Linked DNA regions of Homo sapiens. The protein of the gene in region 3 interacts with the protein of the main gene of each other region in a biochemical or structural test. Each region holds a gene or a part of one and is shown on either strand. Other genes may lie near its edges. The genes, in order: RAPGEF4, RALGDS, RAP2A and RASSF5.

The links.
Region 1: of the proteins of RAP2A (region 3) and RAPGEF4, one has a biochemical effect on the other in vitro, tested with the Homo sapiens proteins (one study listed by BioGRID).
Region 2: the proteins of RAP2A (region 3) and RALGDS form a complex in vitro, tested with the Homo sapiens proteins (2 studies listed by BioGRID).
Region 4: the proteins of RAP2A (region 3) and RASSF5 form a complex in vitro, tested with the Homo sapiens proteins (one study listed by BioGRID).

What each region holds. Positions count from the first base shown.
Region 1 is NC_000002.12:173,046,168-173,053,628, reverse strand, and holds the end of RAPGEF4 (rap guanine nucleotide exchange factor 4), read right to left. Parts: intron 5,030-7,461; coding exon 4,975-5,029; intron 1,990-4,974; coding exon 1,862-1,989; 3' UTR 736-1,861; downstream 1-735.
Region 2 is NC_000009.12:133,096,992-133,104,903, forward strand, and holds the end of RALGDS (ral guanine nucleotide dissociation stimulator), read right to left. Parts: intron 7,341-7,912; coding exon 7,272-7,340; intron 6,843-7,271; coding exon 6,756-6,842; intron 6,272-6,755; coding exon 6,239-6,271; intron 5,910-6,238; coding exon 5,788-5,909; intron 5,581-5,787; coding exon 5,485-5,580; intron 5,149-5,484; coding exon 4,947-5,148; intron 4,772-4,946; coding exon 4,529-4,771; intron 3,392-4,528; coding exon 3,277-3,391; intron 1,772-3,276; coding exon 1,596-1,771; 3' UTR 731-1,595; downstream 1-730. UniProt on the Homo sapiens protein: Functions as a guanine nucleotide exchange factor (GEF) activating either RalA or RalB GTPases and plays an important role in intracellular transport. Interacts and acts as an effector molecule for R-Ras, H-Ras, K-Ras, and Rap.
Region 3 is NC_000013.11:97,436,870-97,444,781, reverse strand, and holds part of RAP2A (ras-related protein Rap-2a), read right to left. Parts: intron 1-7,912. UniProt on the Homo sapiens protein: Small GTP-binding protein which cycles between a GDP-bound inactive and a GTP-bound active form. In its active form interacts with and regulates several effectors including MAP4K4, MINK1 and TNIK.
Region 4 is NC_000001.11:206,502,780-206,511,173, reverse strand, and holds the start of RASSF5 (ras association domain-containing protein 5), read right to left. Parts: upstream 3,644-8,394; 5' UTR 3,572-3,643; coding exon 3,115-3,571; intron 1-3,114. UniProt on the Homo sapiens protein: Potential tumor suppressor. Seems to be involved in lymphocyte adhesion by linking RAP1A activation upon T-cell receptor or chemokine stimulation to integrin activation.

The DNA.
Region 1 (7,461 bases), on a different chromosome or scaffold from region 3:
GACAATATGTGAACTTGTGAGACTAGAATAGGCTGGAACACACTCTGGAAAATGCTGACTTATTAAAAAAAATAGAGGCATGTCTGGAATTTAAAGAATTTTGGATATCTCTTCATCAAATATTTGCTAAGTACTTAAATCACTGAGAAATGGCATGAGGCCCCACACAAGGGAGCTCTAAAATCCAGTGCCCCTTCAGAGCAGCAATGCTCCTAATTGCCGAAAAGTGAACACAACAGACAAATGTCTGTCAACTGATAAATGGATAAACAAAATGTAGTCTATTTATAGAATGGAATATTACATGGCCATAAAAATAAATGAAGTACTGGTACAAGCTATAATATGGTCAACCTTGAAAACATTATGCTAAGTGAAAGAAACCAGACGCAAAAGGCCTCATACTGTATGATTCCACTCATATGAAACATCCAGAGTAAATCTGAAGACAAAGAAAGCAGATTCGTGGTTGCCAGAGGTTGGAGGGAGAGGAGAAGAAGAAGTGACTGCTAATGAGTTCAGAGTTTCTTTTAGGGATGAGGAGAATGTTCTGAAGTTAGATAGTGATGATGGTTATCTATACAACTTTGTAAATATACTAAAAATCACTGGATTCTGCACTTTAAAAGAATGAATTTTATAATATGTGTATTTTGTGTCATTAAAAGATCCAACACCCCACCATACCAAATGGTTACCCCTTTCATATTATAGGAATTGAGATGAACACAACCATTTCTTGTCGACAATTATATTTAGTGAAGATACTAGATGTTATTTACAGAAGATATACATACATACAATTCCTACACATTAAATGTAGTCTAATTGTGAAAACAGGAAAAAATGTACTTCAAAATTACGTACTAAATAAAATAAATAAAAAGTAATTATTTGGCACAGTATCTATTATGTAGCAAATAAATAACTCCATACCATTGATTGAATGAACTATTTACAATCTTTGAAAGTGCAAAACAATTACTGAAAATTAAGATATTTGTAATAACATTTAAGTCCAGAAAATATGTTTTCATCAGGTACAATAAATTTGTAGCCAATAGTAAAGGTTTTTAATGCCCAGGAAAATATTTCAATTTTGAAAAATGTTTTATGCATATTGTGCTCTTCTGAAATGTTATTTTCTACTTTAACGCTGGCAAATTTAAGAATCTTGGCATTTCTTAGTGGAATTCTTATGTATATAATCCTGATTTGTAAATTTTGAAAAGTTACATTGTAAACATAAATATTATTCTATATACATTCAGAAATTACAGACCAGTCCTCCCTAAATTACATAAACAGCCATAATGTTTCATAATAATGTGGTCAGGTTCTATTCCTTCAGAGGTAAGACAATGAAGATGGAAGAATACAACCTATAATTTGGACTTCTATAGATTCCTCAACACCTTCCCGAAACCCCAGGCTCCAAATCAAGATGTTGAGTTAAAATTTTATCCAAATCTATCCCATTTGTAGCACATCTCATCCCATAAACACTCTTAGAAAAAAATGTCAGGGGCTTGCTAGTTCTCTTGACAAGGCTATTTCTACCAAACTCTTCACGTGGGCCTTATTCAACACTTCAGCAAAGAAGATGGCACAAGTGGAAATGAAACAGGGTAGCCACAAACTGGGGATTCCTAAGCTAGAGTGTGTAAGCTTTAGGCATGTCAAATAATTCCTTCTCTTGCTAGGTAGCTGGTAAGCTGAATGCAGCCCTGAGGTGTCTCAGGATGTGTTTTTGCTTGTTTTGTAGAATTCTCTAGTGGCAATACAGTCAGTAGTAGCATAAATGGCATTTTTGAAAGATTGTGGACTGGAGACAAACTGTTGCTTTGGGCATTTGAAATGTCTATGGTCGACGAGGCTCTAATCTGTGTGACATCTGTGATAAAGTTCTCTGGTTGTCAATCACATTTAATTGCCGTACATAACTCCGGACATCCTGATGGTTCTTATTAGCTTGAGCTGCATCAGGATCTGTTGAAAGAGGAAAGGGCAGAATTGGCATTGTGTAATATATGTATATAAGATACAATCTTACTTCTCCAATTATTTATTACATTTATCATAGGTTCCTGGGTTCCCTCAAGACCTTTCAACACACCACAATCATTGAAACGTTTCCACTTGGTTGTTCCATCTCCTCCTTCCTACCCTCCAATTTTCTTTTCTTCCCTGGAATCACCTCTTTTGATCATTCTCCTTTGAATTGCACGTTGTAAAAAAAAAATGGCACCAAATTAAAAGGGAAGCATGTGTCTGATAGCCCCTGGGTATAGATTAAAATTGTTTCCCTTTCCAGAGGTCTCTGTGTCTCACACTCTGTGTCTCTGCCTCCTTTGATCCAGATGAAGACTAATGTCAAAAGACAGTTTTTATTAGCCCCTCACAAAAGCGCTTAACATCTGGGCCAAACTGAAGCAAGCCAGTGAGACTACAGAGTCCTGACTCCCCTCTTTACTTGCACACAGTATACAGCATTACTATACCGACTGTATGTTCTTAGAGACTGTCCATATTCAGAAAAAACCCAACTCACAGGCTGAAGTTATGACTTCTGCTAGACGTTTGATTCTTTAATGCTATCTGCTCTGAAAACTCAGCTACCATTCTATTCTGATGCACATCCCAAGCATGTGAGCAACTGAGGTTAACCAATTTAATGAAGATCAGGGCTGAATGATGAGCCAATGCACTCAGCCCTCGCAGGGAACATACATGAATAAGGAAAGCCAGACCAGAAGGTGGTGAACTGGAAACACAGGTCCCTCTGGAAGTGATGACCTGGCTTCTGCATGTTGCTGCCACGGGGAATCTGTGCCTAGAGTTGCCAGATCTTCCTTTTTTTTTTTTTTTTTTGTTAAGAAATGGGAAATCTGGATTTCTTCTTCGTGAATTCTCCCAATTTTAAAATGGTGACATTATTTCAAAATAAAAGGGAAAAAAATGCTCTCTTTAGACCCAACACCTCTGTGGGCCACCTCCATTTCAAGCATCACTGGGTAGGGCCTCTGGTCTAAGGGGACACCCGGAGTGGCAGAGCCAGACCCTGGCTCCTGACCGGGGTTTCCACCACAGTACACTGCCTTCTGCAGTCTGGTTGCTCCTGCTAGATCCACACAGCACTCCCAAAGACAATTAGAATGCCATCTGCACAAGGGGTGAAGGGGAGTGTTGCAGGTCTGAAGGCAGAAAAGCAGAGAGAAGACATACATGCCCCTGCCCCCTGTGAGAAGAAACTCATCAGTATAATTATCACATAGAAATAATACCACAGCGAACTGCAGAGCACATTGTGTTTAATTTCCTCTGCTTCTCACTGGCAGTGTACTCTACACGTACAATATACTGTAATTACATTGTACACATTCCCACAGTGTTTGTGAATCTATTCCTATAGCTTTATCTATAGATTGTTGACTTCAGAGCTGAGCAGCTGTTGTTTACCAGCAGTTACTGATAACTTCAACAAATGCAGTGGAGTTTTTTCTTTTTAAATACATTTTCCCCTTGGCTTCTCTAGGAGGTGACATAGAAGAATGCAAGATTTACTTCCAAAGAAGCTCATAAAACAAAGCATATTATTTTATGGTTCTTGAGCCTCACTGAAAACCTTCTTAAGGCTATAAACCCCCTCAGGCACACACGATTTGGCATATAATTTCAGGGTCCCCTTTTATCCCCGCTGCTGGATTTGGGATTATAAACTCCGGTTGTAACTGGTGTCACTTATCTATTCTTGTTTCCACTTGTACAACTGCTTTATGATCACATCTTTAAACACAACGTAAATTAATAGATGAAAACACATGAGACACTTTAATTCTGGCTGAATCCACATAAGAATAGTTGATGATATTGCAAGACTATTCACATTTTGGAAGTCAGAGAAGGCACAGTCATTTGAATCAGTTGCTCCCCAAATCAATGTCATTTTTCTTATATTTTTCCTCCCTATTCATTAAAAAATGAACATTTAGTAGTTCTGGTGTCCCATGTTAGCAAATCTGGCCATGAGCCAGTCCTGCTCTAGGAAGAACAAACAACTCTGACTAATAAAACAAGAACATCATAGTCTCTTAGCACTCGGTTTATTGGAGGAGACGGTACTGGTAGCCTCAGATTCATGTCTATGTCATAGTATCATATTGAGTTAATGAGATAAATTTCTTCAAGTGAGTCATACAATGAGCTTAGCAAAAACCTTTAGTGTTCACCTTCTCATTTCCAGACCAGATTGAGGGAGCCAAAGCTCCACCCCCACCACCAAAGTCCCAGCCCAGAAGAAACAGTAGCACTGGTCTAGTATGACCATCTGGTGCTATGATGCAACTTAACTCCCAACAGACTAAAATTGTTATTTATTATTAGTAATTTTTTTATATTAAAGTATTATACCAGTTCTTGTGATAGATGTTCAGATTTTAAAAGAGCACCTCAAATTCATGTGGGAATACTAGAAATATAATATGAAATCCTGTTTTTGGACCTTTTACGAATGTGCTATAAACATTAATGCATTCTTGCAACACCCTGAAAGACAATAAATATTATCTTTCCTGGTTTATAATTGACTGAACTGAGTCATCAAGGGCTGATGTGAGTTTCTCAACATGGAGCAATGAGTCATAAAGAGAGTTGGTTTGAGGCAGGATTTGTTGGCAGTCGTACTTTAGTTGTCTCCAGCTGCACTGGATAGAGCAAATTAAATCTCTTTAAATTCATTCACAAAATAATATTCCTATGGTGATTTTCTAGTTTCACAACAATGTAAATATGTTCTAGTTTAAAACAGCAAAAAAAATCTTTAAACTCAAGGCCCCTATCTCATGGAATTCATGGTCCAAAGTGTCTCTGACACAGTCAGATATTTCCCAGGCTCCAAGGGTGTCTCAATGGCCTCATTAAGAAGACCTTAATCACCAACATCTACATTGTAAGAGGTGGCAGCACTTAACTTACTGAAGGGTTGGCTCCTGTAGTATCTCACTGTTCTGGCCGTATTTGCAATCATGCGCTAAAAGGAATATAGAAAAAAGAAAGATAGAAATTCAAGTAAGCGTAGAGTACAATCCAAAAAGGAAAACAAACCATTTCTGCAATACTTGGTACCATGAGAAGTGACATGTTCTGAGATGTTGACTATCTGAAGGCAACTAGCTGATGTATAACTTGTTTAATTATTTCAAAGGGGTACCCACATACATACAAGGCATTTTCAGGTAAGGAATATTAATGGCATAACTCTCATAATTGTTGGCATATTCCCCATGATGTAAAAAACATCTATCATGCCTGAGACTGTACATTAGTGCTTTTTCACCATCCTTTCTTGAGGTTGCCATGAATTTGTAAGAGAATCTGTAACTATCCTAGATGTGGAGAAGGGTTAGCTTATCAAGTTCCTCACAGTAAATAAGACTCACTAATGAGGTATGAGATTTTATTGGCTGAACAGCAAGTCAAAATATTCTACCTTCACATTTTTGCTACACACTCTGTATTACTGACCTCTCTAATCTTCCAGCAAAAGTTTGCATTTTAATGTTAATCCTGATGATTTGATTCCCTCCTTCCCTCCCTTCTTCCTCCTTTCTGATTATAACACTAACATATACACATCTTAGAAATTCAGAAAACAGGCCAGGTGCAGTGGCTCACGCCTGTAATCCCAGCACTTTGGGAGGCCGAGGCGGGTGGATCACGAGGTCAGGAGATCGAGACCATCCTGGCTAACACGGTGAAACCCCCTCTCTACTAAAAATACAAAAAATTAGCCGGGCGTGGTGGCAGGCGCCTGTAGTCCCAGCTACTTGGGAGGCTGAGGCAGGAGAATGGCGTGAACCTGGGAGGTGGAGCTTGCAGTGAGCCGAGATCGCGCCACTGCACTCCAGCCTGGGCGACAGAGTGAGACTCCGTCTCAAGAAAAAAAAAAAAAGAAATTCAGAAAATACAGAAAATGTTAAGAGCAAAGTAAAAATCACTTAGAATATTACTTCACAGAGTAATCTTGTTAATATTTCGGCATATAGCCTTCTTATATTTAAAAATATATAAAAACATGTTTTTAAAAGATTTGAATTCATATAGTACATACATATTTTATTTTGATTTGAAATTTTTCACATTGCATTGTGACTATTTTCCATGCCATTTGCATTTTAAAACATTTTTTAAAAAGCATGTATTCAACCAAATGGACAGATTATAATTGATTTGACCTTTTAAAATTTGGTCACTAAGTGATCATCTTAACTTCTTTGTAAAGTTTTGGTTGCAATAAAGACTTAAAAGGGAATCTTTTGTGCTGAGCTCAATTAAAAACAAAAGAAAAGAGAAAAGAAAATGGACAGAAACAGAGACTCCTATCCCCTGGGGAAAAACACTGATGAGACCTACGCTCCATTTCTTAGCCAGAATGTCACGGTATTTGAACAATAGCTGGCACTCCTGGTCACTATGTATGTTTCAGGACACTTTACTGCTCAGGCTCTAAAGGGGGTCCTGTGGAGATAATAGATTAATTACAACACTAGCAGAAAATTGATAAGGCTCCACCCAGGGAAAGAGACTCCCCGATCTCTGAGCAGCTATGTAATTCTAGTCAACCCTTTCTTCTCTCACGGACCCTTGGCTTGCCAAAGTATAAGAAAATGACTTTGAGAAAGCTTACATAGTGTAAAAAAAAATCATAGATGAGTCAAGGCCTTACAAATATATTATCTGCAAGCATCATAATACCTCACTGAATACTACTGCTTTGAGGACTCTAGCAAGCCTGAAGTGACATGTACCTGCATTGGATAATTTCGCACACAAAGAGGCAATTGGAAAAGTTAGAACTTCACTTCATCAAAGATCGTGAAAACTGACACATCCATCTGTTGATCAGCATGAGAAACATATCACAAATCCCTCCCAGAAAATGTAACGTACAATGTATAATTAGCCCTTGATATATGGAGCCGTGAAATAAATAGTAACTATGATAACTTCCCTGCTAATTTACTTTTAAGTTGTTTTTTCACTTCTCTAAAGGCTTTGCATCTGAAGGGCACAAGTATATTCCATGTAGAATTATTGTAATTCTTCAGATATTGAATGGAGTGTAATTACCGAAAACCCTGGGAAATGCTGCCAGTATGCCCCTCTGAAGAATAATAAAACAATTAGCAGGGGTCAGAAACCTCTTCCTATACCATTTTGTAGGGAGTAATTGTTCTGCTTTTTAGTTTTGAAAGCTAAAACATTTCATTCTGACTTTGGTTTTATGCTACTCTTTAAAGCTATACTCTGAGACTTCATAATTTTTAGCTCATGTAGTTTAAAATGTGAGAACAATTGTTTAAATCAGTAATTTCCAGCCCTGAAGTTCATTCTACCTTTCTAAATCTTTGATTAATTTTAACAATGGTTTTAATTTTGACGTATCCTTTTTAATTGTTCTCA
Region 2 (7,912 bases), on a different chromosome or scaffold from region 3:
AAAACAGTTTATTCTGATAGTTTTCTTTCTTCCAGCTTAATCGTTGTTTCTGTGCAAAAACTGAACCCTGGGGCCTCCTACTCTGCCATCTTTTGTCACAAATGTTACTTTATTATTATTATTTTTTGAGACAGAGTCTCACACTGTTGCCCGGGCTGGAGGACAGTGGCGTGATCTCAGCTCCCTGCAACCTCCGCCTCCCAGGTTCAAGCGATTCTCTTGCGTCAGCCTCCCGAATAGCTGGGATTAAAGGTGCCTGGCACCATGCCTGGCTAATTTTTTTTATTTTTAGTAGAGATGGGGTTTCACCATGTTAGCCAGGATGGTCTCGATCTCCTGACCTCATGATCCACCTGCCTTGGCCTCCCAAAGTGCTGGGATTACAGGCATGAGCCACCACGCCTGGCCACAAATGTTACTTTTAAAGACAGCTAAATTTCAGAAATTCTTGCTATGCCTTGTGAAAGTACCTCCAAACTCTAGTCCCAGGAGTTCTGAGGGCTGTCTCAGCACATTTCCCAGTTTAATGGTGCCAAAAGGAACATCTGCTGTATGAAAGGTAAACTTTTGTGTTTCCTTCAGTGTGCTGAGAAGAGTGGCTGGCTTTTCCTGTGCATAAAATAACTGGATAACCCTGCAAGGGTCCTTACTTAAACACGGAATGTGAGAGTCTCTATCTCATTTTAATTAAGACAGGTAATGAAAGAACAAAACTGTAATGACCAGGGTATAGTAGAAACAGGATTTTAATATAATATTCAAGTCTAGCATTTGCTATTTACAACAAATAAATATTGCCCCTCCCCAATCAGTAAACAAACATTTTTTTTTTCTTTTTGCTTTTTATACAAATATTCAATCACCCCACCCCCACCCCAAATCCTCCTTCCTCACTAACCCCCGTCTTGCATGGTCTCGTAAAGCCCAGGACGCAGTGGTGAATGGCACTTGCAGTGGCATGAGATTCAACATCGATGGGACTCAGCTGGGACTGTCCTCACTCACCGGGTGCAGAGTCTGGTCCATGAAGAGGGTTTCTCTCTCTGCTCCCAGGGGAGGGCTGGGGTAAGCGGTGGGTGAGACTCCCTCACTCTCAGTTGGCCCTGATGATGGAATCTTTGGTGCAGCCTGAGAAAGGCTAGAGTGGTGGGAGGGGCCGGGACCCCTGCGAAGGTCACAGGCCAGTGCCTGTGGGCATGAGAGAACTGCAGTGGTCACAGTGGGTGCTCTGGGGTGCCCATGGGCACAGGTGGCAGTGACCCACACCTGGGAAGGTGTCAGGGAAGTGTACAGAGGTGGCGCCCGGGGGCAGGCAGGGCACCATGCCATGCCCGTTGGCACTGCTCCTTGGCAAAAGTCAGCTAGTCCTCTGGTTCCAGAGAGCAGAAGGCACCTAAGGCAGCGAGTGGTCCACGGGAGGCCAGGTCAGCCTGACCAATGGCAGGCGTCAATCCCAGCAGCGGGAGAGGTTCAGGATGAAACTGGAGTCTGGGGTACCCTGGGCTGGCAGGTGGGAGGAAGGCGCCCAGCTGGCCTGGGCCACTCTGGTCCATAAGTGCTTGGCTACCAGCCAGCCAGACCCTGGGAGGATGCCCTCAGAAGATGCCCTTGGCAATCTTGAGTCCTTTCTGCTTCATGCGAGGGAGGGTGGAGCTGGCTCCGTGCTTGACCTTCACTCCCTTGGTGAAGGTCCGCTTCTTGAGGACAAAGTCATAGTTGGCGGTAGAGTTCATGGCATAGAAGACGTTGGCGTTTTCAGGGATCTTCAGCTCTGGTGGGGAGGGGCAGAGGGGTGATCAGGGATGCTCCTGGGGGCCCTGCAGGATACCCCTACCGCTTGAGAGCCCATACAAGGACTGTCTTGAGCCACAGACCTCAGATCCCCTCCAATACAGCTCCAGAACTCCAAGGACCCCTCTCAATGACTCCTGCCTGAGGACAGACTCTGCTGAGGTCCTCACAAAACCTGATGACTCTTGTTTAAACAGGGACTGACTCCAGAACCCCCCGGCTTGGCCTGAGCTGGCAGAGGGTCACCCCGTCCTGCCCATACTGCAGTGCTGGCTGCCCACCTGGAACAGGCTTTCTAGAATCCAGGTCACCTCCCAGAATCCTGCCCTACTCAGGACAAGGGATCCAAGGACCAGGAAAGGACAGGCCTGCCCCAGGGCTCTGGCGCCCGTTCCAGGGAGGCCTGTACTCCTTGAACCCTGGCACCCGGCAAGCACTTCCTTTTGGCTCCATTTCCCACCATCTCCTCTGGCCCACAGCCTGCTATAAACCAGAGCTGGGCTCGATTTGTGCTCCTGCCGACATCGTGTGGCTTTTCGTCATCTTTAACCTCTCTAGGCCTCAGTCTTCCTTTTCTGTAAGATGGGGGTCCCGCCTACCCTGCCCACCTAACCGAAATGGTGCAAGAAGCTGCCAGAGGATTTAGACTGTAACTTCTAGGGATCACAGGAGTCATTGCTTACTGTCTGGGCTAATGGTGGGAGGTGGTGTTCAGCTCACTGGAAAGAAAACAGCGATGATAGTATTTATAGTTAACTTTTATGGTGCACATAGATGCTTTATATATACATGCATATATATACACACACATATACATGCATATATATACACACACATATACATGCATATATATACACATATATACATACATATACACATATATACATACATATAGATTTTTACATATATGATGAACACACTGGCTACTTTCATTTCCATTTGGGGGATGAGAAGACAAGCACAGAGGGCTTAAGGAGCTTGCCCAGCGTCTCCAGGCCCAGGATACCCCACTCTGAGCCTGCACTGGTTCTTGACACTTTCCCAGTTTCTAGAATACTGAGTTGGCCTCCTAGTAGCCTGTTCTGCTTTTAGAATCACACACTCATGGATTTTAACACTTGACACTTTGGTCCACAGCTGTCACCATTCTTTGTAGAGCACATGTTTTCTTGTCTTAGCCAGAAAGAGTCCCTTCCAGTGGGCCACGTGGCTAACCTGTCCCAGTGAAAAATGCCTTTTCTCTTTGCTCCTCACTGATGTGAGCTTTGAACTGCCTGTTCACGCCTAGGGAAGGGCACACACTGGGGAGGTCCAGTGGTTGCTGGGGACAGCAAGCAGACAATGGGGGCAGCCAGGGCTGCCCTGTCCACAGTGTCTACCCACACTCTGCTGGTGAATTTTCTGGGGCCAAAGGCTTCCAACCTGGGGCTGGGGAGTGGTGTGGACCTGCCCCCTCTGCCATCGCCCTCTGGTCTTCTGACTTACTCCGGTCATCTGAGAGAATCTGCAGCAGCTCATAGTCCTCCGGCTCCTCCTCCTCCAGGTTGTGTTTGTCCATGGCCTTGCGGATTACAGCCGGAGCCTTATCTTGGCTGGTCACCTGCATCGCGGCGGGGGATGGACCATCAGGGAAAAGACCCTGGAGCGGCTCCCCCAGAGTGCAGTGGCCAAGGACCCTCTGGAGTCCCCTCAGCACCAAGCACAGGCACTCACAGCCTCTGGCCAGGTGCTGGGTCCGGAGAGGGCCTTGTCACATTCTCCTACTCCCCAAGTGAGGCCTCCGTCCTTCTGTTCCCCATGTGAGGCCTCCATGGAATGAGGAGGGGTCTGTCCCAGCAGTGCCTACCCTGCTTCTCCTGTAAGAGACTGTTCCCTCCTCCCACACTTCCTTGAGAAGCACTTGCCCCTCCAGGATAACAGCATCACTGAGCCTGGGGAACAGACAGTCCCTAGTCCAAGCCCTGGAGGTAAGAAAGGAGGGGCCGGCCAGGATGCTCAGTGTGGTCAGCATAGGCCAGGCCCCTGCTACCTTGACCCTGAGGGCCAGAGCACAGGCGGAACTCGGACATAGGGCCACAGGTGACTGCTTAATGACAACCATGCTAGCTCCTGGCAATGAGGGGTCAGGAGCGTGTGTGAATAATGGGGCACCTGACCCAGGGCTGGGGTACAGAGGGTGGGGGTTACAAATGGTTCATCTGTCGCAGGACACCTGGAGGATGAAGAAAGAGCCCCCAGGCAAACCCATTCTGTGAGCAATTCCCATCTGCTGTCTCCAAATCCTGTCTAGACTCTGACCCTGCTGGCCCCTTCCAGGGCTCCCAGCCTGGTTGCCACAGCGGCCTCCTAACCAACACCCCTGCGGCTCTGGTACCAGCCCACACCAGACAGAGAAGCCAGCCATCATTGCTCCTGTCTTCCTCCCCGAGAAAGTCGAGGTCCTGGCAGGGCTCAGGGCCTATGTGGCCAGGCCCTGGATACTTCCCTGACCTCACCTCCCCTACAGCACCGCCCCTTCAGCTCCTGGGGGCTTTGCACGGCTGCTCCTTTCCTCCCCCTCTGCCCTCAGGCCAGCCTTGTCCCTGATCACTACCTTCTTCATTTCTGTACCTGGCTGACATCTGTCCTTCCCCGCCAACTACAAGGTAGACCCCGGGAGGGCAGGGATGGTGCACTGTGTTCAGGGTGCATTTGCCGCCAGTGGAGGGAGGCACCCAGGCCACCCCCGCCGGCTTACCAGGATGCTCTTGTACATGTTGCCATTGTCCACGTCCAGGCTGACGCGGATGATACAGCAGTCGCCCACCTGCTGGTTGTAGAGCGGCAGCGCGGAGCTGGAGTTGCAGAGCCCTGAGACAGAGCGCTTGTGGGTGCGTGTGGCAGCCACGGGCGTGGTGGAGGCTGAGGAGGACGAGGTGCTGCTGGAGGCTGAGCTGATGCCGGAGGTCTCCGGGGATGACTGTGAGGCTGATTCCCAGAACTGAGGGAGACGGTAAGATCAGCAGATCCCACTGCCCTGTGGGGGCACCCCAGGCCAGCTGCCAGATGGGGAACCTTCTAGAAGCTGTGTTCAGGATCCAGGGCTTCCTGGCCCCATGCATGGATTTGGAGTGGGGAGATGGGAAAGGATATTGGGGAGAAGGGCAGGCAGTCACCTTCTTTTCCTGGCCATCAGGAGACTCCGGGACGAAGCTGATGTTGATCTCCTCCACGTCGGAGCTAGAGGAGCCGGCCGAGTGCACGCTGAGCGCGTCAGCGATGTCCCCGCTGCTGAGGTAGGGGCCACACCTGAGCTGGTCACAGGACTTGGAGTGGGAGCTGCCACTGGTACTGAGCTCAGTGCTGGGGGCCTGGCGGCTGGGTGAAGAGTTGGCTTAGTTAAGGGGGCTCCCCAAGGACACATCCCAACCCCACAGCCCCTGCACCCTGCGCCCAAGGACTGTGCAAAGTGCTGGGACAGTTGCCAGTACTCCATTCACCACAGCCATCTGGGAGAGCATTTAGTATCACCCCATTTCACAGAGGAGGAAACTGAGGCCCAAAAAGGTGAGGGGACTCATCCCAGTCTCAGGGCCAGTCAGCAGCAGGGTAGGATTCCAGGGCCAGCCTCCCTGACTCCCTGAGCCCAGGCTCAGCCCTGAAGCTTCTGAGCCCCAAGGCAGCTGCCCCTACCACCCTTGGCCAGGCCCTTACTCGCTCCAGCGCTTGACAATGGCTGTGTTCTTCTTGGTCCTGAGGGTGTTGCTGGCTGACTCGGATGGGGGCTCCAGCTCGCACGACAGGTTGTAGCTATGAGCAGAGGGGCAGTGGTGTGACAACCAGGGGCCATGCTCCGGCCTTCCCCCAGCACCTGCCCAGAAGCTGGAGTCGGGGTGCCCCGGCCATCCTCAGGCAACAGGGGCTGAGGCTGACCATGGGTCATAGCTGCTGGCCCTCTGGAGCTGGCCCCCTAGGACAGCCTGCCCCCACTGTCCCCATTTGCTGCCCCGGCCTCACCTCTCAGTCTCGCTGAGCCGCTCCACGGCCCGGAACCAGGCCCCAAATTGCTCATCTGGCGCGATGCTGTAGTTGTTGCAGGCCGACTGCAGCAGCTTGATCTGGGCGATCACCTCGAACTCCTGGGGCCAGAGGGAAGCACAGGGCGGTGACAAGGCCCCCCGGGCAGCACAGGGGCCAGTCTCTGGGTCTTTGTTCTTGGGGTCCCTTCCTCCCCTCTACTCCCATCCAGGCCTTCCTGTTCTCAAAGTTGGGCTCAGCCACTCCCCAGGAGGTGGTCCTGGATTATAACCTCCTACCCTCACCCTCCAGTGGGAGGGGACCCCCTTCTCTCTGTGTCCAAATGTCCCATGTCCCATGAATCTAAGGAGAGGGTAGGAGTTGAAATGTCCTACCCTGGTGGGTCTGTTTTCCACCCCTCCCCAAGTCAGGGCTGCCTGCAGCTGCTTACCTTCCTCCTCTTCTCAAAGTTGATGAGTCTGCCCTGGAAGGTGGACACCCAATGGCCGTCAGAAAGTGACCCCTTGACCATTACAGTCTCCCCACCTCATGCTGCACTATCAAGAGTGCCCACCAGGGGGCAGGGCACGCACACCCCTGGATTGAAGCCGGTGCTGGGCACCAGGGCAAGGGGACATGCGGGCAGAGGCTTGGGGACTTCTTGTCCAGCACTCTCGGAGGACAATGGACTGAGGCCTTGGGTGAGAAGGCCCTGCTCAGCCACCACGTGCCGCCTGACCGCTGAGGGCCTGGCTTCCCTCTGTGCTCAGGGTCACTGCCTGAGGGATGGGCTGTGTCCCACTCAGCCAAACCCTGCTGCAGCTCTGTGTTTGGGCAGCCCTGGGGTGTCACCAGCAGGGCACTGAGCTGTTTACTCATTGCTGGGACAGGTGTGGCAGCCCAGCCCCCAGGGCTCAGGGAAGGTCTCTCCTCCCGGGCCCTACTCCAGCCCCGCCCGGCACACTCACATACAGATAGTCCTTCATGGCAGTGTCCAGCATCACCAGGTCGGTGAGGAACGTGCCCAGGTAGGGAACGGTGCCCTGGATGATGCCCTGTGACATTGGGGTAGGAGGATGAGCAAGGCCCCTCCCCTGAAGGCTTTCTCAGCCCCCAGCCCCAACTGGTCTCACTTGGAACAGCTGGGGGACCTCTGGGGGCCTCCTGGGGCCCACTGTCTCCCTGGACCCCAGACTCCCTCTAGCCATCTCCCTGGCTGGCATCTGGGAAATGCCAGGTTCCCAAGTCGTGTGGCCCCTGGCCCTCCCCAGCCCCACACCCGCCTGAGCCGGCTCTGCCAGGCCTGTCCTTTCGTGGCTGCAGCTGGTCTTCCCAGATACCAGCTGATCCAGGTGTGGCTCTGCTAGGGTCCAGAGGAGGCTACCTCTAATGGGGCCCATAGGCACCGTGGCTAGAGAGGAAAGGGCCCTCCTCCCTACCCCCAGGCCAGCCCCCTGCCCCTCCGCGGCCTTGGGCACTCTCACCGTCTCCTTCGGCCGTTTCTGGGCTCTCTTGGGGTTCATCTCCAGGGTGGCAAACTTGGAGGTGCCCTCCTGCCAGGGTAGAGGACAGGGTCAGCAAGGCCCTATCCCCTCAGCCCTCAGGCACCCTGACCTGGGGTGCTGCCAGTGTGGTCGGGTTCCAGGGCTGACCCTGTATCAATACTCACTAGTGTGGGGTCCTGGGCCGGTGGCCTGGCCTTCCTGAGCCTGCCTCCCCCTCTGGAAAGTGCGGATGAGAACTCCGCCTGCTGCATGGTGCGGTGGCTCACGCCTGTAATCCCAGCATTTTGGAAGGCCAAGGCAGGTGGATCACTTGAGGTCAGGAGTTTAAGACCAGCCTGGCCAACACAGTGAAACCCCATCTCTACTAAAAAATACAAAAATTACCTGGGTTGGTGGTGCACACCTATAATCCCAGCTACTTGGGAAGCTGAGGCAGGAGAATCCCTTGAACCCAGGAGGTGGGGATTGCAGTGAGCCGAGATCACGCCATTGCACTCCAGCCTGGGAGACAGAGCGAGACTCCTTCTCTAAACAAATAAAAAAACTCCACCTGCCTCGCAGGGCCTCAGAGACTCTGCGCTACAGTCCTGTTATGGCTGCACACTCCTTTCTCCCTTGAA
Region 3 (7,912 bases):
ATGAATAAAAACTTCCTTAGAAAAGGTGGCCTAATAAGAGCAATGTTTTTGGTGCAAAAATATTTTGAAACTTAGAAATGAAAGTGTCTTTAAAAATATATTTCTGTATAACTCAATACTGCAAAATATATACCCATTTATAGGACATTTTGGCACACCAGAAGGACAAAGATAGTATCTTGTTCTTATTCTGTATAATGCCCAAGGCAATGCTATGCAAATGAGGTGGCTTAAATGATATTAGTTGATAGTGATGACTTTTATACAAAGACAAAACTTTTCTCAATTTGATTATTAAAAAGCTATGCCAGCATGTTACTATATATAACTAGCCATAAAGACTGTTAAAATTATCTTCACCCCATGCATATTTGGTATTCATAAAGAGGTCTACTGTCATTATTAACTTTTTTAAAAAGAGAAGTGTTAACAAATACTAATATGCTGATTGCTTTTTATGTCACATATTAATATTTAAAATATGTGTACTAAAAATCATCACAATTCCTCATGAGTCAAAAAATTTACCGCCACCATTTATAGCCAATATATTTAGGTCTCTAGGGGAAGGCAAAAACACAAAGCACTCAAGGTCTATGCTATAAGTTCTATAACGTAGTGTTAGAGCACTTAAAACACAGAGGAGAAAGCAATGGGAAAAACAGAAATGTTATACTATACTAGGTATATAATTCATCTCAATATAGTAAGACAATTGAGCCTAATTCCTAAGAAGTCACGTGGCAGTATACAGATAAAAGGCTGGGTTTCATTCCTATTTCTGTGATTCTTGGTGAAACTTTATTATTAATATTTTAGGTTCACTATGTAAAGAAACACTTTACGTTCGTTATCTCACGAGTTACTACATCATACTCATATTACAAATGAGGAAATTAAAATGCAAGGAATGTCAACTTGCTCCTAATTACATAACTAATAAGTGCTGGATCTCAGCTTTAATGAGATTAACATTCGCTGTCTTCATGGATGAGAAGATAAGTATATACAATAAAATACTCCATTCGAGAATTATAATACATACAGTATTCATAATGTTCATTGGAAACCTAAAGATGAATTAATTTAGGACCAGGGGCAGTGGCTCAGGCCTGTAATCCCAGTGCTTTGGGCAGTTGAGGTAGTCGGAACACTTGAGGCCAGGAGTTTGAGACCAGCCTGGGCAAAATAACAAGATCCCATCTCTAGAAAAAATTTTTAAAGAATTACTTGGATGCGGTGGTGCCTGCTCTGTAGTCCTAGCTATTCAGATGGCTGAGGCAGAAGGGTTGCTTGAGCCCAGGAGTTAGAGGCTGCAGTAAGCTCTGATGGCGCCGCTGCACTCCAGCCTGGGCAACAGAACAAGACCCTGTCTCTTAAAATACTCTAAGATTTCATTTACAGAGAGAGAGCTGTAAAGATACTTAGTAGAGAAAATACTAATATGCATTGAATTATTAATATAGTATTTCCACATTTGAATTATTAATTTCTAAGGGTCAGGAAAGCATGAGAACACTCCTAAATGTTTTAAATAAAGGTTTTTCAATGTTTCTCTTGGGTAACTTTACTAAGTGATTTTAAGATATTTATAGTTTTACTGTCTTACAGGGAGAGGTGAATCAGTGTTATCCTGGATAGATGCAGCAGACCTCTATTTTGAGTTTTCTGAACCTCCTCAGCAACTGTTCTTGAAATAGATAATCCCGCACTCATGTATTCAAGTCTGAATACTACCACAACCTCCCTTTCTCTGTTCTAAGTTTTCACAAGGCAAAAGTTATCTTGAATTACTAGAATGAACAACATTACATGAGAAATACATTCTCATATTTCTAATATGCACAACAGAGATAAATGCTTTCTCAAAAGATATGCTATATCTTTTTGTTCAGTGACTAAATGCTATCTTTCTCTGAATTACAGGTAGTATTTACTAACTCACATTGGGAAGTACTTCATTTTCGTAATCTTACACAGCATTGCTGGGAACCAGAAAAGCAGGAGAGAGAAGATGAAATATTAAACAGATAGTTACATTTAGTTTTCTTAGAGTAAAAATGTCCTAGGATAGCAGTTTCCAAGCTATGTGTGATAAAATCAATTTGGTGGGTCATGAAAAGCACTTAAAAACAACGAAATAAAATAGAAAAAAATAAATAGAAAAAGTAATACAAGCAACATAGCAAGTTTACTGTCTTATGAAATGTTGATTTCGGCTAGATGTATTTATTCCTATGTGTGCACTAAGTCACAATATAAAATGTACTTCTTACTGAGGGCCCTGGTTAAGAAAATGTGAAATCCCCTGCTGAGTGGATCTATAAAAATAGAGATAGTTATTAATTTTTTCCAATATTTGGCTTTTTGACAGATAACAATTTAAAAATAAAAATTATAAGTCACCTTATTTCTCCCTAAATATAAATTTTGGTATGTTTTAAAATCTTAAATGTATTAGAGAAATAAAAAACAAAAACAAATCCCCATCTATACAATTATGCCAGAGAAAGAATTTAATACATACCATGACAAAATCTTAGCTAGATTATGTATTAGAATCTTCAAATATTGTTTTTAGTTATTTTGATTACTTTAAATTTTACTAATATATTTATGCTTTATTTAACATACTTGACTGAAATGCAGATGTCCACAATTACAGCATTACTATTATTGATATTACTCTACTAAAAGGCTGAGTTTGATCTGGTAAAGCAGAAAGGATGTTTAAGAAATTAAACTTCTCTCTGTCAGGCTGAGAATAATTTTTAATGATATGAACCACAAGTGTCAAAGTAACAAATGAAATGGCAATATATAATATATGGCATATTTCTGCACACCATTAAAATTTCAAGATAAATTTCCTACATAAACACAATATCTATACATTTCCTTTAGTAACTATTCAGTCACCATCAGTTTTACCTTGTTTGAAAGTCTGCTCGTATTCAAACTCTTATTACTCCAAAAAAACTTAGAGTACTTAAAACTCTTTTTACAACATAGGCCTGAAAAATATAAGTGTGTAAAAAAACAGTAGGTAAGAATAGATGGAGAGAAACAGAAAACAGGGAAAAATCAAAACAGAAGCAAAGAAAACCCCAGAGTAAGGCATACATGCTCCCCTAGGCAGTAAGGTTCTAAAGACAATGACTAAAAGAGAACTGAAAAGAAAAAAATACCCCTGAAAAAAAATTCCCTTAAGTACAGTGTACTTGGTTTTATGTAAAGATCCTTGCTTAAAAATATGTACATATACATGCATAATATATGCACCTTATTGTGCCATATGTAATTTCCCAGAACTTCACACACAGAAATTAAATCACTCAAGTATATTGCTACTGAAACTTTAGCAAATAGATTCCAACTTTGTTGGCTCTTCCTGTTGGCTGTGAAATCCAGTGATTTTTCTTAGTTCCTCTACCTCTTCCTTAATGTTTAATAATTTAAATTATTTTTGCCCTCCATTAAAAAATAAGTATTAGTATAATTATTCCTTATTGTAGATTTTATTGATACAATTATCAAATCTTAACTAGACAAAATTGTGGGTCACAGGCTGCTGATTCTTTAAGGTTCATATTAAACTTGACCCCTTCCCTCATCACCCCGGCCAGACAAAAGTGCTCTCACAGAATGTTAGAGAGGAAGAGACATCATCTCCTCCAACTCCAAATTGAGCTTTAAAAATTACAATCCTGGAGTGGCAAAAAGAAAACTATATACTGTAACCTGTAATTTTACAATGCAGCCAAAACAAAAGTTTCCTTTTCAGGAAAAACTTCTGGGCCACATAAAGTGATTCACTGTATGAAGTTCAGTTATGCAAGATAAGTAAGTCCCAGACATCTGTATGGTAATAGTACTTCTAGTTAACAATACTGTATTGTATAAACATTTGCTAAGAAGACAGAACTTATGTTGTGTTCTTACTACAAAAAAAATGAATGAATGAATGAATGAATGGATAGATAAATAAAGCAGGGGGAAACTTTTGGAGGTGATGGATAGTTTTACAGCATTGATTGTGGTGATTTCACAAGTGTATGCTTATCTCTAAACTCACTGAGTTGTACACATTAAATATGTCTGGCTTTTTGTACATCAATCATACCTCAATAAAGTGGTTTTTAAAGAAAAAAAGATCATGAAAAACACTGAGCTCTTCGAGTCATTTTCAAAACAAATTTCAATTTTTTGACCATTTAAATCCCTCTCATGAAAGATGAAGTGAGCACTCATAACTATTTCCCTCCTCTCATCCTGACTTACTAGTTATATTGTTTGTTTCATATTGTCAGTCTTTTTAACTTTAATATTCTGTTTGGCAGCCATAATTCTCACAATTCTTTTATCTTAGTTTTGTATTTAAGTGGATAGAGGTTTCACCATCAGTCCTTATCTTCATACCCAAATTCTTTGTTTGGATTTATGTCTGACTTTCAGGATTTAGTCATCAATTCTTCATGTTATATATATTTATTATTAAAAATTTTTCCTACTAATTCACCAGTACCAAAACAAAACAAAAAAAAAGTGACCCACAGCTATTAGGCTCTGTACCTGGGAGGTCCAGCTTTGAATTAAGTTTTGGTACTGGGGAAGCAGGTATTTTTAGAGGGAAAAACGGTAGCAGAGCTCCAGAAGTTTCACTTACTTGGGACAGACATCTTTTGATGTATACTCTCGTTTCGGCTCTCCAGCACCAAACTGTCATGGGCCAAAGATCTATGTGTAACAATTGGTAATATGCTTCTGTTTTAGAGTAGGCTTTAATAGCTACTTATGGTAAGGGGGAAAGTGTAAACAATCAGCCAGCTCACTTGAAAGTGACCACTTAAGTGATATAGAAAATTAATAATAATCTTAAAAAAAAACAACTTACTCACCTTGGGTAGTGCTAGTCAACTATCTTTTTCCCAATCTTAAAACACCCCACGCCTTCTCGCCTACTGCAATATAGGAAGTCTCCACTGTGTATCTTACAACTCTCGAGTTCTATCCTTGGCTATATTCATTCATTCCTCATTTCTATTGTTAGCCATATCCATTCATTTCTGTCTCTATACTCTACCCAGTAGGTTTCATCTACTCTCCCAATCTGAACTACGCAGATGATCCTGAGTCTTCATATTCATACATAACCTGACCTTTCAGGCTTTATTCAAATGTTCTAATTACTTATTAGGCTGGCTATCTGGATAATTACCATCTCCAAAACTGAAAATAATCTCCCCCAGCTATTCCTCCATAATCCTATTTGTTCATTTCAAAATGTCAAGGTTACTTCTGACCTTTTCCTCTTCCTCTACCACTGAGTTTGATTACTTCATTCTTTACAACATTCCTTGCATCCTTTCTCTCCTGTTACTACAGACACCATGCTAATTCAGGATTTTCACACTTCACGTAAAAACTGGATTATCACAACATTTATGACTATTCTTCCTGTTATGAAACAGAGTAGTCTATTACCACTAAGACATCTACCATATCACTACATATTGCTATACCTATGACAATTGTGATTATGGTCCTTGACTACATGATCAACTCCTAAGTCTTTAACCTTCAGTAATTTAGCTTTAAAAATTTTCACCTTACCTCCCCTCACACTTCTATATACATTCCCCATTTGGCCAGTCTGCTCTATTTAACATCCAAAAAACATATTCTATGCATTTCCTGTGCCATTTCCTCCATCTGGAATACATCATGTTTCTGATTCTTTGAGGTTCGTATTAAACACTGCCCCAACTGGAAGTGTTCTCACAGAAAGTTCGAGCTGAAGGAAGATCATCTCCATCTGCAAAATGAACTTTAAAAGATCATCTCCTCCATCTATGAAATCAAAATGTTTAGGGAAACTGAGGCCAAACAACAATACAAATACTTTTCTTTCTGAACATTCATTTTTTCAACATTTTTTCTTGTTTCCTATGTGCTAGTAGGAGCTGTGTCACCTACGTGGGCTTGGAGTTTTGTGAGAAAGGCTGGCTACCCATAAATTATCACACAAATAATTAAATTTGGATGAGTGCTTCAAAGAAAAGGGAAAGGACAGGGTATGTGTGATTGAGCAAAGAGGTGAGGCATAAAGTTTAGTAAGGGAAGACAGGAAAGGGGTTACTTTGGTTTGAGAGGACATCTTCCCTCAGTGGGGAAAAATCTTTTAACTCATCTATGCCTAGTGTTCCATTATTGGAACACTAAGCTTGTGGGAGTTATTTATATCCTACTGTTCAAGGTCATTGCTAAGGTCTGATATTTCACAAAAAACATTTGCAACCTCCGGTATAAATGGGTTAAGCAGGGGTGAGGGTGAAAGACGGAGTAGGAATTAACTCTGCAAAAAGGTAGATTTCCACAGGCCAAAGGAGAGCCCAGAGAAAGGTACTTTCAAGGACTTAAGGTCTGGGTGCTAGAATAAAAGGATGGGTGCAAGAGGTGAGGCTGCACAGGCAGGGAGGGATAAGAGCAAGCTGGACTGTGAAAGGTCATGTTGAAGATTTCTGGACTTTTTCCTAACAGCAAAGAGGCCTTGTATATCATGTTCCAAGAACTTCATGTCAGGACCATGGCTGATCCTGGCATGGGTAACAATGAAAAAAGCAATTACAAAATCAGAAAAAAATTCTAGTTTTATTTCAACTGAAAAACATTTCCTATATCCCTGTTACTCTTCTTTGTGTGTGTCATCTCACCCAAAATCAAGTTAAGAAAAGAAAGCATATGAATTTACAAATATAGCCATTTTCAGTTGGTCCACTTGGCTTTGACAAGAGGTCATGTATGTATACGGAGGTATGTACACTTACAGACACTTAAGGGAGTATGGGTCAGTTTCACATTTCTTAAAAGTGAAACATTTCAAGTAATAGCAATCCTTGAAAATGACTGCTATTATTTGAAATGAAAATGAAAAATGAAAAGCTCCATTCGTTGTTTGGCTATGCATTAGTGCTATGCATTATTGCTATACTGTACTTGAAGTTAAATGTTCATTCTCATGCCCTTTTCCATCAGATCCTTCATAAGGGGAAATAATTTCAAGAGAATACCAACACAATTCTTCCAAGGATTATTTTAACCTCATTGCTTTTTAGTCTCATCTTGAATATACTAAGTAATGAATTCCAAAATGCAATTACAAATTTATTTCTTCTAAAATTACATTTATATCAAGGGTAACATTTAAGGAAGATAAATGACAAAGTTATTAAAGTAAGAATGACAGCTAGAATTTTTTGAGCAATTTCTGTGTACTGGTATTGTTTTGGGAATGTTAAAATACATTATCTCATTTAATTCTAACAAGGACTCTGGAAGGTGCATGCTAATCTCTATTTCACAGATAAGGAAACTGAAGCTTAGAGAAATAAGCAAGCATTTCCCCAAATCATATACACCTTAGACCTCTGTTGTCCAATATGGCAGCCTGTGGCCACATACGGCTACTGAGCACTTGAAATGTGACTTGTTTGAATTGAGATGTGGTAGGTCAAACACATACCAAACTTTGAAGACACAGTATAAAGAAGTAAAGTACCTTATTAATAATTTTTGAATACTGACATGTCAAAATGATTCTATTTTAAATATGGTGGGTTAAATAAAATACATTAAAATTAATTCCATATATTTATGTTATTTTTAAAAAATCAGCTACTAGGAATGTTAAAATTACATATGTGGCTCACGTTATATCTCTATTGAAAAGTGCTGACCTAGACCTAAAGCTGAATACTGAATTTGACAGTAGATATCAAATACTGAAAGACTGGTAAAGAAGAGGCCACCTGCATTCACATGTCCTCTCCATCAATGATGGGAAGCCAGACGCTGGGGTTAGGATGAGGTGTAAAATACCTTACTACTACCATATTACAAAGACACACAAGTG
Region 4 (8,394 bases), on a different chromosome or scaffold from region 3:
CACTGGATTTCCTTCTCTATCTCACAACTAGGAGTTCTTTAATCCTAGAAATTAATATTAACTCTGAACTTCCCTGTTCACAAATCCAGCATTAACCAGAGGTTGGTTACAGACCTTGAAGTGGGGTAAGCTTAGGTTAGATGAACTTTTGCTAAAAAGGCAGACAGTGGGAAGAGTGTTTTCCAAAATGCTTTCCTTACTAAAGTGCCCTTCTGCCAACATGGTTCCCACCCAGTGTCAGTCTCCTGGGCAGACAGATGTCACTCACATACCCACTGCCCTCCTGCTTGTTTCCAAGGGCTGGGATATTTAATAGCACAAACAAGCCATCACTTTCATCACTCACCACATAGTGAGACCCTGCTCTGGGCCTGGCACTCTGCTGGGTGCAAGAAACACAAAGACAAGGAGCCAATGGCTTCGTGGCCCCTATGCCAGGCAAAGAAGGGTCTCCTCAGCCACAGCAGGACATCAGGTAGGAGTGGCATTTCTAGAGGACACCTAATACCCAAATTTTCTGGGATGTCTATGGCAGTCACTTCCCCACTTAGCTCAGCAACCAGGCAGAGTTCGCAAATTGTACTCACTGCTTCGAAAGGTAATCCTAGGAGGTGTCACAAGCCCAGACTAGTTGTTACAGCTGTTAGATGGGAGGGGACAATAACAATCATATCGAATTAAACATTCGTATTGCATTTTGCTAGGCCCTGTTCTGAGTGCCTTATGTATATTAATCCATTTAATTCTCAGATTAACATGATGAAGTAGGTAATATCATTATCCTATTTTTTTTAAACAAAGAAGCAGAACACAGAGATGTCCAGGACTCACGTGGGGACTAAGTGGTAGTCAGGATTCAAACCCAGGGCTCTGGTTCCAGTCTGTACTCTTAACTACTGCATAGTATGATTTTTTTTAAAGTCCTATTTCTGACACTTGCTTTTCAAAATGAAGATAAAACAAAGCAACCTCACCATGGAATCAGACCTTCAACTTAAAGAAAGATGCTCAGCGAGTTTGGCCTGCTGTGTCTCCACCTGCCAGCCCTCATCTGCACATCAGAACATTTCTCAACTTTTGCCATCCAGCCATAGGTTCACAATTAGTTAAATATTAATCATGACAAACAGAGACTCCTTTCTGTAGCCCCTCGATTCCAGTTTTGCTTTCTCTCCAGTGTTCAGACATCGTTAGCATTAAACCAACTCTGTGGGGGACCATGAGCGCCCAGGAAAGTAAAAAGACCTCACCAAGTCACACACAAAGTCAGAGGTACTGCCCGGGGGCCTAGATCTTCCTGCCACTAGAAACGACGTATGACTTAATCAAAGGAGATCGACAATTCTGATGTGACGTAAGGATCAATTCATTTAGTCATGGAGTATCACACACAGGCACACGCAAATACACACAAACGCACCATTATCACCAAACCAAAAAAAAAAAAGAAAATCACAAAACTATGTGCAAAATCTTCAACAAGTGATACAGTCCCCCAAAGTCTAACTACAAACTAGAATGCCAACGAAGCAGATTTCCTGGGATTCCAGCTATGATAAAACCCATTTCAGTGAGGCTCCTGCCTCTCTCCCTGTGTGTAGGGTTGTTGGATGCAGTAAGGGAATCTTGAAAGTGCAAAAGCTGCCAACACATCCAAGGATAAGTTGCATTTGATTCTACTGTAGTCAAAGGCATTTACCAAGGGACAGCAGCCCCTCTACCCACAACATGTACCTCTACAAACCTTTACTCCTTCCTTCTTAATTAGCACCTGAACTGGGGGTTCTGGTGGAGGAAAGAGCAGCACCCACTTGCCCTTCCAATCTTTCCCTTCCACTTGACCCAGGCTTAGTGTCTGAGTTCTATTTCCCTGCAGCCAGCTGCAGCGGGCAGCACATTGAACAGCCTCCGCTGCAGACTGCAGGCAGAAAAAGGGTAGGGTTTTCCTGATGTGGAAATCACTGCTGCTGTCCAACGCTGCAGTTGGATGGGAGACGTGAGGCTGCTGCCATAGGGGAAGGGCCTTTGCTGAAAGATGCAAACCACAATCCATTTCCAGAGATGCTTGTTAGAGGCTGTGCCATTGTCTGTGCTTTGGGCTTCAGATATTTGAAATATCCATGTAAACACATGAACACATGGCTGTGGATATCCTCTGATAAACACGCAAGAGCAAATGCCGGGGTGGGGGTGGAGGGTGGACACCTATTAAAGGCATACACACCCCTAACTGTAGGAGGAGAAAAATAATAAACCCCCAAGGAGACTGAAGATTGGCTCAGAAAATCTATACACTGGGGGCCCAGTGTTTTCTGGCTTTGAGAAGCGCCTGGCTCAGGAGGTGACTGGAGGGGCCTGAGGGCTGTGGAGAGGAAGGGACCCTGTCAGGAGCTGAGTAATGTTAGAGCATGACGACTAGGGCAGGAACCCAGGAGGAGGAAGGGGAGGAGGCAGGGCACAGCCAAACATTGGAGCAGAGTCCAAAGGTTTGAGGGGCCAGAGGTGAAAGGCAGGAGGGGGCACGGGTTCAGGGTGACTTCAGGCTCTCTTCAGCCTCACAGCCTGCCTTTATCCAAAATCTAACAAGGTCTCCTCCCTGTCCCAATACGTCCCCCTGGAGGAGAGGTCTGAGCCTGTACCATGGGCGGACAAACAAGCGTTTTGTCAGTAACCCTAATAAGCAAGGGTCAAACGGTCATCTCAACAGCAGTCTCACAACCCACTCCCAAGAACTCACAACAAAACCATGAGGGTGCACAGGGAGATGACAGAGGCCGCCGAGGCCATCACCCACCCACCCCCCACAACCTGTGTGCGAGTGTGTGTGTGTGTGTGTGTGTGTGTGTGTGTGGAGGGCCAAGGCACGCACCTGTCAGGAGACAGGTATCTGTTAACTACCGCATAACCATACCTAGGTAGTGGGCAGGCACTAAAGGATACCGGGCAGGGAACTAAGGAGCGGACTGTCCCCAGGGGTTGTTATCTCCTTATGTTCGGGGCTCCCCTGGAGCCAAAGAGTGTAATGGCCCCTCTCTCCCTGCCCCAGGGCCCTCCCAGTCCTTCGCCCCCAGACTGCGGTCTCCCCGCACGCCCCTCCCCTGCCTTCACACTTACTAGTGCAGCGCAGCGCCTGCCGCAGCACCTCTCGTCCGCACAGGTCACACCAGCCGGGGCCGCCCGGCAGCACCAACTCGGCGAAGCAGTGCCCCTCGCCTCGCTCCGCCGGGACTCTGGGATCCTGCGGCTGCTCGAAGATGCTCCGCACGTCGCGGGGTCGGGGCGCTCCAGGCCGCCGCCGCAGTCTCTGCTGCAGACCAGGCCGGAGCGGGCGAGCGGGTCGGGAGGCCCGGGGCGGGGGCTCCAGGTTCCCCCGGGCAGCCCTCCGGGCGCTGCGCCCCTCGCGCGCCCCGGGCGCAGTGGAGAGGGGCGCCGGGACACAGAGGCGCGAGGACCGGTCGGGGGGCGGCGGCGGTAGCTCGGGGCCGCTCAGGCTCTGTAGATAGCGCGGCGGCTCGGGGTCCAATAGTAGCGGGTACGGGCGCTGCCCGATGGCCGGGGACGCCATGGCCATGCCCGGCTAGTGGCGGCAGCTTTGGCAGCGGCGGCTTTGGCGACTGCGCTACTCCCGAGCCAGCCCCGAGAGAAGGGGCCGCCCCACACCAGCGCGCCTTTAAAGGAACCGCAGCCTGCTGGGCGGGGCGGGGGCGGGGAGAGTCGGAGTGGCAGGAAGGACGACCCAAGAGAACCGCCGACGGACCGAAGGGGGTAGGGTCCGTGCCAGGCGACGTCTGCGCGAGTGTGGATTTGGGGGCGTCTTCACCTGGAGCAGCTGCAGGATTCCGCAGAGGAGCGCCTCTGTACAGTACAGCTCAGAGGGCGCATTTCTGCGGGGGGCCCTAGGCCTTCAGCCCTGCCTCTTTCCCTTGCCAATCACTTTCCCCAACACCAGGTTCACCCCCGACCCGCACCCTCACGCGCCCCGGGAGGGAGCAGGTCGGAGGGAAAAGCTTGGGAACTGGCTCGATGGGGTCTGAGTAGGGCCCCTCCGTCTAGGCGTCCGCTCGCCACTCTCCCGCTGATGGTGCCGACAGGAGGGCCGTGCTCCTTGGCCCTTCCTCTCTCCGGCTTGTCGCCGCCCGCCGCCCCCTCTAGAGCGGAGCTCGACGCGGGTCCGGAATGCCCCGCGCGCGCTCCCGCAGCCGCGCTTTGTCCCGTGGGTGACCGCCGGATGCCTCCAAGGGCTGGCAGAGCTGTCCGCGTGCGACTTTCGCTCTGGTTGGATTTCCCCTTCCTTCGCAGCCCTGCCGGGTAGGGTATTCCTCTTTCCTGGAAGACTGGTGGGGGGTGGAGGGGAGTTGGGGGGGCTCCATTGAGAGAACGCTCCCTCGCCCCAAGGGTTGGGGGAGCTTTTCTTCCTTAGCCAACCCTCCGTTCCCCAGAGCTGCTCTAGTAATTACTGTGGAGATACCAGTTCCCCTAAATGCCCTAAGTGGAACCTGGTATGGATGGTTCACTCATGGGACCCAAAGAGAGATCTCCTTTCTCCCGGCACTTTCCCCCGTGAAGGCTTGCTTCAAGCCTTCATGGACCCTTGTCTGGTTTAACGCTCTGCGGTCACCATCTTGAAAGTCTTACTTTTTGAACAAAGGGCCAGGCGTTTTCTTTTTGCACTGGTTCCCACAAATTATGTAGTTGTTCCTGACAGGCACCTTTGCCCATGGAAACAGGCCCATCTTATGGATAAGGAGGACTCCTGGATCTCTGAACCTGGGCCTGGGCCCTGGCCCTCTCTAGCCCCAGTATTGTTAACTGTACATTGGGCTGGAGGTGGGGAGACAGGTGGTTGTTAACGTGGCACTCTCCAGCTCCGTCATTATGACTCAGTGATCACAGCTTTCCTCTTAAAACACAGGTTCGGTTTGGTCCGTCTAGCGGTGGTCATTTTTTAGAAGAATAGTCTAAATTCTTCTGGACCTGGTCTCTCCCTTCTCTTCCCAGGCCAGAGATGGGTCTCCCCCTAGTGCTTCGTAGGGGAATCTTCACTTTTGCTTTTTGTTTTTCCCTTGGAGGTAATTTTTAGGTAATTCCTAAGATTTCCAGAGTCCAGTGGCCAGGGAATTCCCAGCCAGCTTTGCTCCATGGCTTCTCCCTCACGGTAATCATAGTCCTCTGCCTCCCAAATCTGTAGCAGAAGAGAGGTTCCTGGGGCTCTGGGGGCTCACCAGAGGCGGGAGCTCACCCTATGAGGTGGTTTCTGAGGAATGACCCATGGGACAGTCAACCCCACAGTGCTACCAAACAGAGGAGCTCCGATGAGGGGTGTAAGCCACAGGCCACCGCCTCTGCCCCACCCCTCCTCTACCTTTCCTCTTCCCTCTCCTAACCTTGCTTTTGCTACATCAGTGGTTTTCAAACCTTGGTATGCATCACAGTCATCTGGAGGGCTTGTTAAGATTATTGGGCTTCATCCCCAAAGTTTCAGAATCTATAGGTCTGGGGCTGGGGTTTGAGATGGCTCATTTTGAGCAAGTTCCCAGGTGTTGATGCTATTGATCCAGGGACCCAACTTGGAAAACCATTGCTCTAGGTCTGAGGTGGTGATTCTGAGAATGGGCTTCTCTGTTCCTTCTCCCCAGGACAAGTGTACTTCAGTGGACCTGACAGATAAAAGCCCAATGAGGGCTATTCCTGAATACTTTCTGCTGAAGGTGTAAAAGGGAAAATACAATTTGCCCTTGTGGTCTCTTATTTTAATCTCCCACTTTTTCTGCAAGCAGTTCTCTTGGGGTTGTTGCAGAAATCTGTATTCCATATAAATATTTGCTGTGTCCACACTCTGTTACCCATCTCCACACACTTGAGACTCATCCCCTTCCTGGAGTGCAGTGGGTGGGTGAGGTCCTGGGCATGGAAACAGCTTGAGCTCTGAGTGACAGCCTGGTGGGGCAAGAAGCAGCAGGGATCTGACAACAAGTGCATCCCTGGAAGATCGGCTTTGAAAAGCCATTTGTGAAATAATTGCTAACAGTCTCCATCTCTGTCCTTCCCTGCAGCCTCAAAGCATGGTTTGGGCAGCCCAGCCCAGATTTCCTGGATAGAGAGACTCATGAGGAGGAGCGTCATCTCTGGCCACGGGAAACTGAGGGCTATCTGAAACCATCAGGCATAAAACTCTTCCCCAGTTGTCTGGGCTGTACAGAAAAATGCTCTAGTTTTTGTTTTCCTCCTGCAGCTCTGATTTGGTGGAGTGGCAGTGGCTGCTCTTAGCATGAATGTGGGAGGAGATTGTGCAGGGCCAGAGCCCTATATTTGGCTTCTGGGGTGGGAAAAGAGATGAAAATGGAGATATTAATCATATAACTCCATGTAACCAATCAAAAAATTTATCATAAAGTTTATCTTAAAGTTCATCTCCTTGAGCCAAGAAATTAGAGTTGGGGCGGGCAGTTGCCCTTCTTAACCTCAATGTGAGGCTCCCTGGCTGGGGCATGTCTCCTCTGATGCCAGTTTTCCCAGCCCAGTCCCCTTCTTCCTTGAAATAGCATTTCCCCACCAACCCACGACACACACATAGACTTCTTTCTTGCTCCCATGCACACACACACACACACACACACACACACACACCCCACATGAACAGCAGAGTATTCCTTCTTCCCCAGGGAAGAAGTGCTAAAGAAACTCTAGTCTCATTATAAGCTCAGGACATTGCTGGGGTAGTGTCAGATGCCTGGACTTTAACATTTTTTTTGATCTGTCTGGTCATCCAGGCTACAAGGGTAAGACCGCAGCATCCGCTGAAACACCTCCACTGGGAGATCTTTCCCCTTGTTAGTAGATCCTCTTGGCTCAGACCCATTGACTTTTTTCTGTTTGTGACTCACTCCCAGCAGAGTGGGTGTGCTGCTTTTATTTTTGACCAAGGGGAAGGATTATGACAGTGAGTTTAGAGTGTGTGGTCAGGGTGTGAGATCACTTCAGAGGTGGTCCCAGAGCGTGCTGGTTTTCCCATTGGGTGAGTTGTTTAACTGCTGCCGCCCAGCCTCCCTCCCCAAGTTCCCTAGTAAGAAGGAAAACGGAAGGACAGAACATGGCCTGACTTCCTGAAGGGGACATTTTTGGTTTTGTTTGACTTTGAGGCGTCTGAAGTCGCCTGAAATCCCCGAAGCTTTCAGGGAACTCCCAGGGATTCTGACAGTTGCACAACTGTCTACATGGAATCACTGTAAGAGTCAGGACAAGTTAGGTTATGCTGTAGTAATAAGCTCCACAGCTGAGTGCCCTGAAATAACAGACTCCTTTCTCGCTCACATTACATGCCTTTTGCAGGTTGGCAGGTGCTCTCTTCTCATCAGACTCACCATGTCTAATATTGCCAGTCACTGTGCCAAAGGGAGATTGAGAGAGCCTGGAGGATCCCACATCAGCATTTAAAAGCTCCAGTCACTTTTGCTCACAGCTTATTGGCCAGAACTAGTCATATGACCCCACTCTACAAACAGGAGCAGATGTAAAATTCTACCTTGTGCTCAGAAGGGGAAAGGGCTGGAAATATTTGGCAATCAGCGCTAATGGCCAGTGCAATCTTCAAGGGCATAGAGCAGTTATTCATTCATTTAATGAGTAATTCTCTGATATCCACTATGTATCAAGCACTGTTCTAGGCACTAAAGGTACAACAGTGAAATGGATATGTTCATGAAGCTTGCATTTAGTGAAAGAGCCAGACAATAAACAGACACAAGAGTAATATGATATCAGGTTGTAAGCACTTTGATGAAAAATCAAGCACATTAAGGGGATGAAGGTGATAGAGGCTACTCTATTAGATTGAGTAGTCAGGAAAGACCTTTCTGAGGAGCAGACATTTAAGCAGATCTGAATGAAGCAAGCCCTTTGTCAATCTGGACAAGAGTGTCCCAGACTAAGAGAACAACAGGCACAACAGCCCCAAAAACTTTTCAAGCTTTATGAACCTGAGTTTGTTCAAAATGCCTATTCTGGGACCTGACCCTCTGATTCAGTATGTCTGGATTTTGGCCGGGATTTTGCAAGAGACTTTGATTCAGATGGCTCACAGACTACACTTTAAAAATGGGGTTACAGCAGTAAATAGTTAAAATGGTGTGACCCCCTCCACAGACATTTGGAAAAAAATGCCCTTATCTTGGTTAGCTATGAAACACAGGTCTCCAGTGCTGCTTCCTTTCCTTCTTGGGCAGCATGTTGCATGCAGAGCTCAGCTTTCCAAAGAAGTGAGTGCTGCTTGCAATGTGTGATGGGGGTCAGTAATATTTTACATTACTAGACTGAGAGCAGGGACCATGACAAAATGTTGTTGGAGGATCAAAATGTGTTTGTGAGAGAAATCCCTTGTAAAGTGCCATAAGTTAC